Linked DNA regions of Homo sapiens: region 1 is linked to region 2. Evidence: fine-mapped expression QTL. A gene starts in region 2. The other region holds a variant in brackets. All regions are shown on one strand. Distances are between the middles of the regions. Region 1 holds the start of LOC105372407 (a long non-coding RNA gene). Region 2 holds the start of LIPE-AS1 (LIPE antisense RNA 1).

Region 1 (5,485 bases), 130 kb before region 2:
GAGGCCGAGGTGGATGGACTATGAGGTCAGGAGTTCAAGACCAGCCTGACCAACATGGTGAAATGCCGTCTCTACTAAAAATACAAAAAAATTAGCCGGGCATGGTGGTGCGTGCCTGTAATCCCAGCTACTCAGGAGGCTGAGGCAGGAGAATTGCTTGAACCTGGGAGGCAGAGGTTGCAGTGAGCCAAGATCACACCACTGCACCCTAGCCTGGGTGACAGAGCGAGACTCCATCTCAAAAAAATAAAATAAAATAAGATTGTTTATTTGGGCAGCTCCCCTATGCAGAGCTGAGGTCAAATAATTATAAATATTTTAAGGTTAATTCACAGACCACAAGATAAGCCAAAACCATTAACCATTTATACTATTTCACTGAGGGGAAACTGAGCCACATGGCAATAAATACAGTCACTATATCAAGGTCACACAGACCGTAACTGGAAGATCAGTTACAGGAGATTTGTCTTCAGCCACAGTCTTAACCTCTCCTCTACTCCAGGGGCCTTATTTGGCATCTGTGGACCCCAATACCAGAGTTGGTTCAGTTCCTTTCTTCTTAGGCATCTGCAGCCCAGAGGGGAGATCCTGGTCTGGGGAGTGAGATCAAATGGAGAATTAACCAAGTTTTATTCTGGAACTTATTCAACAATTAGAGTCAGTGTCAGAAATGTTCAGGCCTGGGTCAGGTGTGGTGGCTCACACCTGTAATCCCAGCACTTTGGGATGCCAAGGTGGGCGGATCACTTGAGGTCAGGAGTTCAAGACCAGCCTGGCCAACATGGTGAAACCCCATCTCTACTAAAAATACAAAAAAAATTAGTCGGGCATGGTGGTGCGTGCCTCTAATCCCAGCTACTTGGGATGCTGAGGTGGTAGAATCGCTTGAACCCAGGAGGCAGAGGTTGCAGTGAGCCAAGATCATGTCACTGTGCTCCAGCCTGGGAGACAGAGTGAGACTCTATCTCAAAAAAAAAAAAAAAAAATGTTCAGGCCTATCCCCTCAGACCCACACCTCTGCTCCCTGGACTTGAAATCCTGTGTTTCCTGATGTGTTGGTGTCACTCCCACAGGAGGATAAAGGAAAGGACTTTGCTTTCTCTCCTCACTCACACCCTGCACCAGCCAGGGCCCAATATGAAACACACACTCAGTAGTTCTCTCACGAATGAATGAATGATTGAATGATCCATAACCTCTTTAGAGACTGGATCTGGTTGCAGAATCCTGGGAGGTTCTTGCCATACCTGCTCCCCATCCCTCCAGAGACTGAGACCCATGTTCCATCCCCTGACCATCTACCCCTAAAGCCACCCCAAGTACCATATTTCATGTGACTCTGGGGCTGCTCGGCTGTGGGAAGGTTTTCAGGGCTCCCTGGTCTTGGTTCTGGGACACCAGAGGCTCCTGGTTGCTGGGGTCTCTAAGGTCACTTAGCCCCCACTGCTCACTGTCATGGGCATCTCTGACTCTCTCTGCTCCTCCATGTCCTCATTTTCCTCTCCTTTTATCCCAGCTGAACTGCACAGTTTCCTCCACCCTTAGGCCTTTCCCAGACACTCCGTCTAACAAGGTTGACTGTCCTGTTCCCTTCCCGCTCACACTGTGGCCAGGCCCACCTCCCAGGCAATAGGAAAGGCACAGAAATGAGCCCAGAGCAGCCACCCCTGCCAGGTCCATCATAAGCCACTGTCCCCACGTCCCTCAGTGAGGCTGACATGTGGAACAGGCCAGGGGACAGGGACGAGCGACTCCTCCATACACTCTCTATACTGACTCACCAGGGGATCAGAGGCAGAAGGACAGGTCTGCAGTCCCCAAAGCCCATGGGCTCATTTCACCCATTTGACTCCTAACTCCATCCCTGTTCTGCTGTGGGCTCACATCCTCTAGTGGTTCCTGGGACCTTCCCCAGGTAGAGCTAGCCAGGCAGGTGCTGTCTGATGGGTTTGCTGCCCATTCCACCTACACCTGTGTCCTCATGATGACACCATTGTCATAAGGTGGGATCTCTCAGACAGGGAGATGCATTAGCCACTGGTGTCTCACTTAGACTCTGCCCAATTTGGATGAATTTGGTCAAACTCTAGTTGTGTTTCCTGAGGTTGAGAGAAAAGGAAGAAAGCATTTCACATGACTGTTTTGGGTTCCTCTTTTTACCTGAATTTCCACAGGAATTTGTAACATAGAACTCTTTCTAAATTTACTAACATAACATACATCACTTCTCCTCATATGGCATCGTTTCTCTCTTAATGCAATTGAGAACTCTCAGATATCCTTTCTGACAAGTTCTGTCTTCCTAACAGGACCCATGAGTCCCTTCTACCCAGGGAGTCACTGATTTCAAACTGACTTCAGCATCTTTCTTTGATCATAACATGATCCTACTGGACTTCAGAGCTTGGTTTAAGAGTTTATCACGCTCTCTAGAGAATATTCCTCTTATTAATTGGTGTTAGATCCAGAGTATTAATAACAATTTTCACAAATGGAATAATTTAACTTCTCAAATTTATATCCCAGATCTACCAAACACACAC[G/A]GTCCATGAGGGTCAGGCTTTCAGCAAGTTCATGCTCCTTCCGTTCCACTAGCTGGTTATTCTGCATTTGCAAAAAACCCACATATTTCAGAAAAGATCCACAGTGTCATCATCTGCTCTTTTCAGGGGGAAAAGGGACATTAAAGACCAAAGACAAGGAACGTAGATATGCTGTTAAATCCAGGCAGCCCCTGCCTGTCACCCTCACTCTTTTCTAGATCATTCCTTGGACTCTGCTCTATCTTTAGGGGGTCACTGGCTCAAGTCAGTCATCATCAAACACCTGGGAAAAACTGCCCCACCTTGTGGTTCTGCTGCCTGACGACTGAGCTACCTTCAGGCTTGCCCCTGGTGTCCCCTGTTATTTCTGCTGAAACATACAGTCCCAGGCCAGGCTGCTCAGTATCCTCAGGGTTTAAGGACAATAGGAAGTCCCATCATCACCCATCTCTAGGATGTCCTCAGACAGGGAAGCTGCAGAGAAAACACACCTAGTGGGGCAAAGTAGGACTGTGAAGCTGGAAGGGACCCAGCACCTGTATGTTCCAGGTGAGGACCCACAGGTGGGTCAGGCAGGCATCAGCCAGTCAGGGAAGGACCAGAAGTGCCTGGGGCTGTGACTCCCAGTCCTCGGTCTGTCCACGACCCAACACTGCTGCTCAGTTCACACTTGAGAAAGTCTGTGCTTCTCTCACACAGAGCAGGCGGCCTCACGGTCTCTGAGCCCTCAGATCATTGCACATCTGTCTTGTGAAACACACACTTGCCATGGGCTTTTAGGGACTTGGGTTGGCTGAGAGGTGGGGAGATGCCAACTCTGATTGAAAAATGCCCGGACGGAATCCCAGCACTTTGGGAGGCCGAGGCGGGCAGATCACGAGGTCAGGAGGTCGAGACCATCCTGGCTAACAGTGACCATCCTGGCTAAAATACAAAAAACTAGCCGGGCATGGTGGCATGCACCTGTAGTCCCAGCTACTCAGGAGGCTGAGGCAGGAGAATCGCTTGAACCCGGGAGGAAGAGGTTGCAGTGAGCCAAGATCGTGCCACTGCACCCCAGCCTCAGCAACAAAGCGAGACTCTGTCTCAAAAAAAAAAAGAAAGAAAGAAAAATGCCCAGCCAGGCACGGTGGCTCAGGCCTGTAATCCCAGCACTTTGAGAGGCCGAATCGGGCGGATTGCCAGAGCTCAGGAGTTTGAGACCAGCCTGGGCAACACGGTGAAACCCCGTCAGGCATGGTGGCATGTGCCTGTAATCCCAGCTACTCAGGAAGCTGAGGCAGGAGAATTGCTTGAATCCAGGAGGTGGAGGTTGCAGTGAGCCGAGATCGTGCCATTGCACTCCAGCCTGGGTGACAGAGCGAGGCTCCATCTCCAAAAAAAATAAATAAATAAGAAAAGAAAAATGCCTGTGGAGGAATCAAAGGTGCCACACAGGGCAATCTTCTCTCTGTTTTCTGCATAGCGGAGCTGCCCAAGCCCTCCATCTCCAGCAACAACTCCAACCCTGTGGAGGACAAGGATGCTGTGGCCTTCACCTGTGAACCTGAGACTCAGGACACAACCTACCTGTGGTGGATAAACAATCAGAGCCTCCCGGTCAGTCCCAGGCTGCAGCTGTCCAATGGCAACAGGACCCTCACTCTACTCAGTGTCACAAGGAATGACACAGGACCCTATGAGTGTGAAATACAGAACCCAGTGAGTGCGAACCGCAGTGACCCAGTCACCTTGAATGTCACCTGTGAGTATCTTCTGTTCCTCTGTGGCCCAGGCTGCCAGCCCAAATCCACGCAGCCAGAGGCCAGGCCTCTCAGTCCCTCTCAGGTCTAAGGACGCAGACCCTTAACCCTGGACACCCAGGCTGGCCATGACTTCCTTTCCCCAGGCAAACCTGGGCAGCCCCAGCCTGAACCAAGAATAGGAGGGGAGAGGCTGCTCCTGTCCTGGGAGGCTCAGGGTCCACAGCCTGTGATGGGAGAAACAGGTGAATGTCTCAGACCCAGACTCAGTGGACACAATGGAGGTTTGGTTAGGACTTCAGGGTTGTGACTTAGTAGAGAGGAACACTGTGGCCCTTCTCCAGACCAGCAGCTTCCCCTTCCCTCTGATGACATCACCTGTGGCTTTATTCTCTTTGCTCCAGATGGCCCGGACACCCCCACCATTTCCCCTTCAGACACCTATTACCGTCCAGGGGCAAACCTCAGCCTCTCCTGCTATGCAGCCTCTAACCCACCTGCACAGTACTCCTGGCTTATCAATGGAACATTCCAGCAAAGCACACAAGAGCTCTTTATCCCTAACATCACTGTGAATAATAGTGGATCCTATACCTGCCACGCCAATAACTCAGTCACTGGCTGCAACAGGACCACAGTCAAGACGATCATAGTCACTGGTAAGTAATTCCTGGAGCATCAACACTAAGATCTGGGGTACAAGCTTTCTGGTTTTCAAATAGGAGCAGAGAAGAAATTTTCTTTTGCAGCCTGTATCCAACAGGCACAAACAAGTCCAAATTCTCCCCTGAACCCTCTCAATTCATCTGTGCAGACTCTCTTCCCTTTGTTTTTCTGATTTCTCACAGCTGACCTTAGGTCCAGCCTGGAATGTGGGGAGGGGGTTCTCTCAGCCCCAGAAAGCCCCGTGTAGCAGGAGGGGCTTCACAGAGGGGGAAGCAGAAAGGGTCCTCAAGGTCAATTTGCTTCTGTCACTAACATGTCCCTTTCTGTAACTTCTTGGCCTTCTTTTACCTATTCCATGAGATATAAGGAATATGTGAGGTTTTAAAACAGACTCACAATAGTTTTCCCTAAATGAGAGAAGGAAATGCCCTTCATCAGGGATGAGCAGCTCAGACTCTGCTCCCTGCTCTACTCCCGGCTTGCCCGGTGATTGGCTCTGCCCTGACCCCATGTGGGGTAGGACGCAGGTGT
Region 2 (5,231 bases):
TAAAAGGTGGGAAGGACAGCACCTACTGATGAGGTTACAGGACAGCAAGGGGACAGAGATGACACCCAGGTCTGGCCATGGAAGCAGGTGGACAGTGAAGCTGTCTCTTCAATGGGAGGAGGCTCAGGTGTGTGTGTGACAGGTGGGACCTGTGGAGGGCCATTCTGGACATGGTGAGCTGGAAGGTCTCAGGAAGACAATCCAGGAGACAACAAGGGTCAGAAGTGCAGTCTGGGGCTGGGTGTGGTGGCTCACACCTGTAATCCCAGCACTTTGGGAGGCTGAGGCGGGTGGATCACCTGAGGTCAGGAGTTCAAGACTAGCCCAGCCAACATGGTGAAACACTGTCTCTACTAAAAATACAAAAATTAGCCAGGTGTGGTGGTGCACGCCTGTAATCCCAACTAACTGAGAGGCTGAGGCAAGAGAATCGCTTGAACCTGGAAGGCAGAAGTTGCAGTCGGCCGAGACTGCACCACTGCACTCCAGTCTGGGCAATAGAATGAGACTCTGCCTCAAAAAAAAAAAAAAATGCAGTCTAGGTGGAACCAAGGGACTAGAACCTTTCCAGGAAGCCTGGGCAGGTGGGACAAGCAACAAGAGGGCCAGGACAGAGACAGCCCTGAGGATCACACCCCTAGTAAAGGGGTGGGCGGGGGTGGGCAGTGGAAGGCAAGGCTGGCGGGTTCTAAGGAGCAGCCAGAGAGGGAGGAAGCTGCCCAGGAAGGAGGATGTAGGGTGAAGGGAGTTTCAGGGAGTGGACCAGGTCAGATGAGGATTGAAATGTTACCCTCAGGTGTCAGCAATGAGCAGGTGACCTCAGTGACCTTGTCCAGAGCCACTGCAGGGTCATGGCCGTTAGGCAGCCAGACATAGTGGGTTGAAGAGGGAGTGGAAGGTAAGGGATTGAGCCAGTGGGCGCCACAAGAGAGCCTGATACAGGGCACATGTGTTTAGAGATGATGGACATGTTTGAATGCTGGAGGAGTGGGAGAGACTGAAGATGCAGAAACAAGAAAGCCGTTTCCTCACGGGGTGCGAAGCAAGGGATCCTCAGCTCAGAGGTCCTCGTTCACCCAGCAAGTGACTTCTGAGTCAGGGCCTGTGCTGGGGCAGGGAGCTGTAGCCCAGAACTCTTCCTGAAGGTCCAGATCCACTGGCCTGAGTCACCACTCTCCTTGTCCAACTCATAGAACCCCTTGGTCACCTCTGTCAAAACAGTCACTACCCATCAACCTGCTCCTCTTTTCCTGTCCCCACCTCAGAGATGGCTCCACTGTCCTCCAGACTAGAGCTCTGGGTCTCATGCTGGACAACCCCTTGTCCCATAGCCCATCAATCCCCACTTTCTGTTCTCTCTGCCTCCTGAATCTCCTTATTTATTTTTCTTTCTTTCTTTTTTTTTTTTTTTTTTTTTGAGATAAGGTCTCACTCTTGTGCAGGTTGGAGTGCAGTGGCACCATCTTGGCTCACTGCAGCCTCGACTTCCCGGGCTCAAGTGATCCTCCTGCTTCAGCCTCCTCAGTAGCTTGGACCATAGGCATGCACCACCACACCTGGCTAATTTTTCTTTTTTTTTTTTTTATTTTGAGTCTCACTCTGTGGCCCAGGCTGGGGTGCAGTGGCGCGATCTCAGCTCACTGCAACCTCCCCGTCCTGGGTTCAAGCAATTTTCTGCCTTAGCCTCCCGAGTAGCTGGGATTACAGGTGCCCACCACCAAGCCTGTCTAATTTTTTGCATTTTTAGTAAAGACAGGGTTTCACCATCTTGGCCAGGCTGGTCTTGAACTCCTGACCTCGTGATCCACCCGCCTCGGCCTCCCAAAGTGCTGGGACTACAGGAGTGAGTCACCGCGCCTGGCCACACCTGGCTAATTTTTTGTAGAGATGAGGCTGTCACTATGTTGCCCAGGCTGGTCTTGAACTCCTTGGCTCAAGTGATCTTCCCGCCTCAACTTTCCAAAGTGCTGGGATTACAGACACGAGCCACAGCACCAAGCCTTGCCTCCTGAATCTCTATCTTATCCCCTCGGCCTCTTCCCTGATCCAGGCTCCACTCTCTCCTACCTGAATCCCTGCCAGAGCCACCTCCTGGGCTACTGGCTTCCAGTCTCATTCCTCCAGTTCTGGACCAACTATGACCTTGTCCTCCACTACTCTCAACCCTTCCATGGCTCTCCACTACCCCCTCACCCTCAGGACAAAGTCCAAGCTCCTCAGCCTGGCCTCTGCTCATCTCTTCGGCCTCCTCCAGCCTTACAGTTCCCCTGCTGGCCATACAGACTTGACTGGCCTTCCGCTTAGGCACCTGCACGCAGTACTGCTCCTGCATGCCTCCCTGTCTTTGGTCACGCTGAAACACCCTCCCCACACCCATTTTGCCTGGCATCTCCACTTTGCCTGGCACCTTCTGCTCCTCCAAGATCCAGCTCCAATGGCCCCTCCCCTGGAAACCCTTTCCCGACCACGCCAAACTCAAAAAAGTCTCTCCTGGGCTCCCACCGTCTCCGCACACCCATGCCCATCAACGTCCATCCTCCCATCTGACCCGGGCTCCTTGAGGGCACGGCCCAGGCCTGACTCATCTTGGTCACCAGCATCGCCCAGCACGAGGCTTGGCACACCAGAAGCCTCAGGAAATGTTTGTCTAACTAATAGGTGGGAGAGTGTGTGAGTGAGTGGCTAGACGAGGGAATCCGTGAGTGAGAGAATTGAGGGCAGGAAGGGCAGAACGGATGAAGGAACAGGAAGGCAGGAGCAGACGAGAATCAGGCTTAGGGTGGGAGGAACGGATGGATGAATAACAGATCCAGTATCCCGGTCTCAGTTTCTCCAAGAAAGCAAGATGGGTTCGCCGGGACTGAGCTCCTCCCCCCTCCGCCTCAAGCCTCACTAAGCCTCACGGTTTTCCACCCGAGCTATGTGCAGAATCCTAATACTAGGCGTGCTGGAAAGGGCTTACCCGGCCAGACTCGGAGAACCCGTTCCCTCGCGAGCCCGCTCGGGCCTCTGCGGAGTGGACCAGGATTCCGATCCCTCAGGTTCCGGGTCTATTGGCCGACTGACTGGGCCTGGCAGAGACTGGCGTCTCCGAAAGCCTATCGCTGCCCGAGTTGGGCTGTGGGCCCCGCCTACCAGGCAAAGGGTCCTGAGTGGCCCAGGGAGGTAGAAGGCCGAGTGTCCATTGGCTGGAAGATAGTGACTGACGTCATGGATAGCTTTCGCCGCCAGACTCCAAAGAAGCGCCTCGCGTGTCGGACCCGCCTCCGGAGGGACTGAGTCGGGGTGGGAGCCCTGGGCGTAGACGGTCGCAGAATGGTCGTGAATGGAGTTTCTGGCCCCACATACCTAGGCTGTTTGCTGACCCGATCCTTGGGTCTTGAGGAAGGTTGGGGATTTGAGAGTTCAGACTCCTTGGTTCTGAAGGAGGAGAAGTCTGGGACCCGAGGAAGGAGGGACTAGGGGCCCGGACTCCTGGGTCAGAGGGAGGAGGGGGCTGGAAACCTGAAGGTTTGGTGTCTAGGAGCGGGAACTCCGGGATCTTGAGTCACTCGCCCGCCCAGGGATGACAGGTTTGGGGTTCAGGATTTTATGAGGCTATTTATGGGAAGGGAGCCAGGCCTTACCCCCAGGCAAGTGTTCTGGGTAATGAGGCGGAGCTTGTAATGGAGAGGGAGAAGGAAGAGGCTCAGGGGAAGCTCTGGCCTGGATATGCCCTTTCCTCATCCCGAAAAGGGAAGTCAGAGGCAGGTGCTGTCTGCAAAAGGAACCCAGAGCTAGAGGAGACTGGAGACTCACGTGAGACTAAGAGAAAAATAGAGATACCAAAGGGGAGATGGCAAAAATAAAACAGTAATAATAACAGAGCTCTCTTGTACTGAGTTTACTGTGGCCTGGTTCTGTGCTGAGCATTTTACATAATTATCTCATGTCTTCCTCGCCACAGCTCTGAGAGATTGGATTATTATTAGTAGTATTATCCCCAGTTTACAAGTGAGAAAATTGAGGCCTAGTGAGGGAGAATCCAGATACAGATGTAAAGATACAAGAGAGACACAAAACATAGATGGAGATAAACAAAGAGTTACAGGCCCAGAGAGAAAAAAGAAAACGCAGGCAACAAACAAAAGGAGAGGGGCTGAGAGCTGGGACTCCTGGGGCTGGGGAACTGGAGAGCTGGGGACCCGGACTCCTGGGTCCTGGGGAAAGCAGGTCCAAGGATGGGGTCTCCCAGATATTTTCTCCCGTGAATCCACGATACTAAGCTTGTCCAACCCTTCTGACTGTGGGCGTGAGCCTGGTTGGGGTCGAAAATAGTGATTAGGAGGTGCACTTGCATCATGAGCCTATTAGGAGGTGATAAGAACATGATTCATGGCGGTCTCCTTCGCCTGGAAGGGACCTTTCCCCCATGGCCTCTGTTCTTTGATCTGGACAGATCTGGCCTTCTCTGTCCCTCCCCATCACTGCATCTCGGTCACTCAGAACTGTCACTGAGGCCCATTGTGGAGGCAGTGGGCCACCTTGGGGCAGCAACAGCTTTCCTGGTGGGGGTCATCTCTCTGGGTCTCTCTGCTTTCCCCCAGACCCTGAACCGACCAGAGGTCCTGGCACATTGCAGGGGCTCAGGAAATGCTCATGGAATGAATGGACAGAGATCCCCGTCTCTGGGCAGCTCTTCCTCTGTCCCAATCCAGCCATCGTTTTTCTGTGTCACCATCACGTCTCTTACCCTCTCCCTGGCCTCACTGGTCCCCTCCCACCTTCCCTTTCAATCTCCTGTTTCTCCTTGAGCCACTGGGCCCACTATCCCCATTAGGGAGAAACCAAGGCTCATCTTGGAAGGATCTCTCCCAGGGGTCACCTATGGGATGTTATGTAAGGGAGTGGCCTCACAGCTGAGAGAAGGGTTCTCAAGATTCCAATTATAGACACACTCCCAGCACCTCAGAATCAGAAATGCAAGATCACACCAAACACGTGCCATCACAATTTGTGTTAGATTTGATCTTGCATTTGCACCCACACAAAGAATCACACACATGCAGCAATATAATCACCTACAAGCACAAACACAAATATAGGCACACAACCACAGAATCGCCCGTGATCACAGCACACAAGAAATATCCTATTCCACATGCAAAACAGACACCCCAGCGATGCAGTTACATGGCCAGTCACTGAGAGGCCACTCATCCAGCTCCTACCAGGAGGACCATGAGCAAAGA

Evidence for each region.
Region 1: its variant is fine-mapped to the expression of LIPE-AS1 in whole blood (TOPMed, PIP 0.99).

What each region holds. Positions count from the first base shown.
Region 1 is chr19:42,520,729-42,526,213 of GRCh38, reverse strand. CEACAM1 (CEA cell adhesion molecule 1) reads left to right here. Exons shown (of 9, transcript NM_001712.5): 3 at 4,012-4,290; 4 at 4,693-4,947. All of the region lies in intron 2 of LIPE-AS1 (LIPE antisense RNA 1), which reads right to left. LOC105372407 (a long non-coding RNA gene) reads right to left here and starts at 3,456. Exons shown (of 2, transcript XR_935974.3): 1 at 2,849-3,456; 2 at 345-596. The variant G/A (reference allele first, on the strand shown) is at 2,547.
Region 2 is chr19:42,394,956-42,400,186 of GRCh38, reverse strand. LIPE-AS1 (LIPE antisense RNA 1) reads right to left here and starts at 3,039. Exons shown (of 3, transcript NR_073180.1): 1 at 2,963-3,039. It overlaps LOC101930071 (a long non-coding RNA gene), which reads right to left and starts at 3,059. Exons shown (of 2, transcript NR_126041.1): 1 at 2,963-3,059. RefSeq lists enhancers at 1,971-2,654, 2,655-3,338, 3,193-3,352, 3,373-3,512.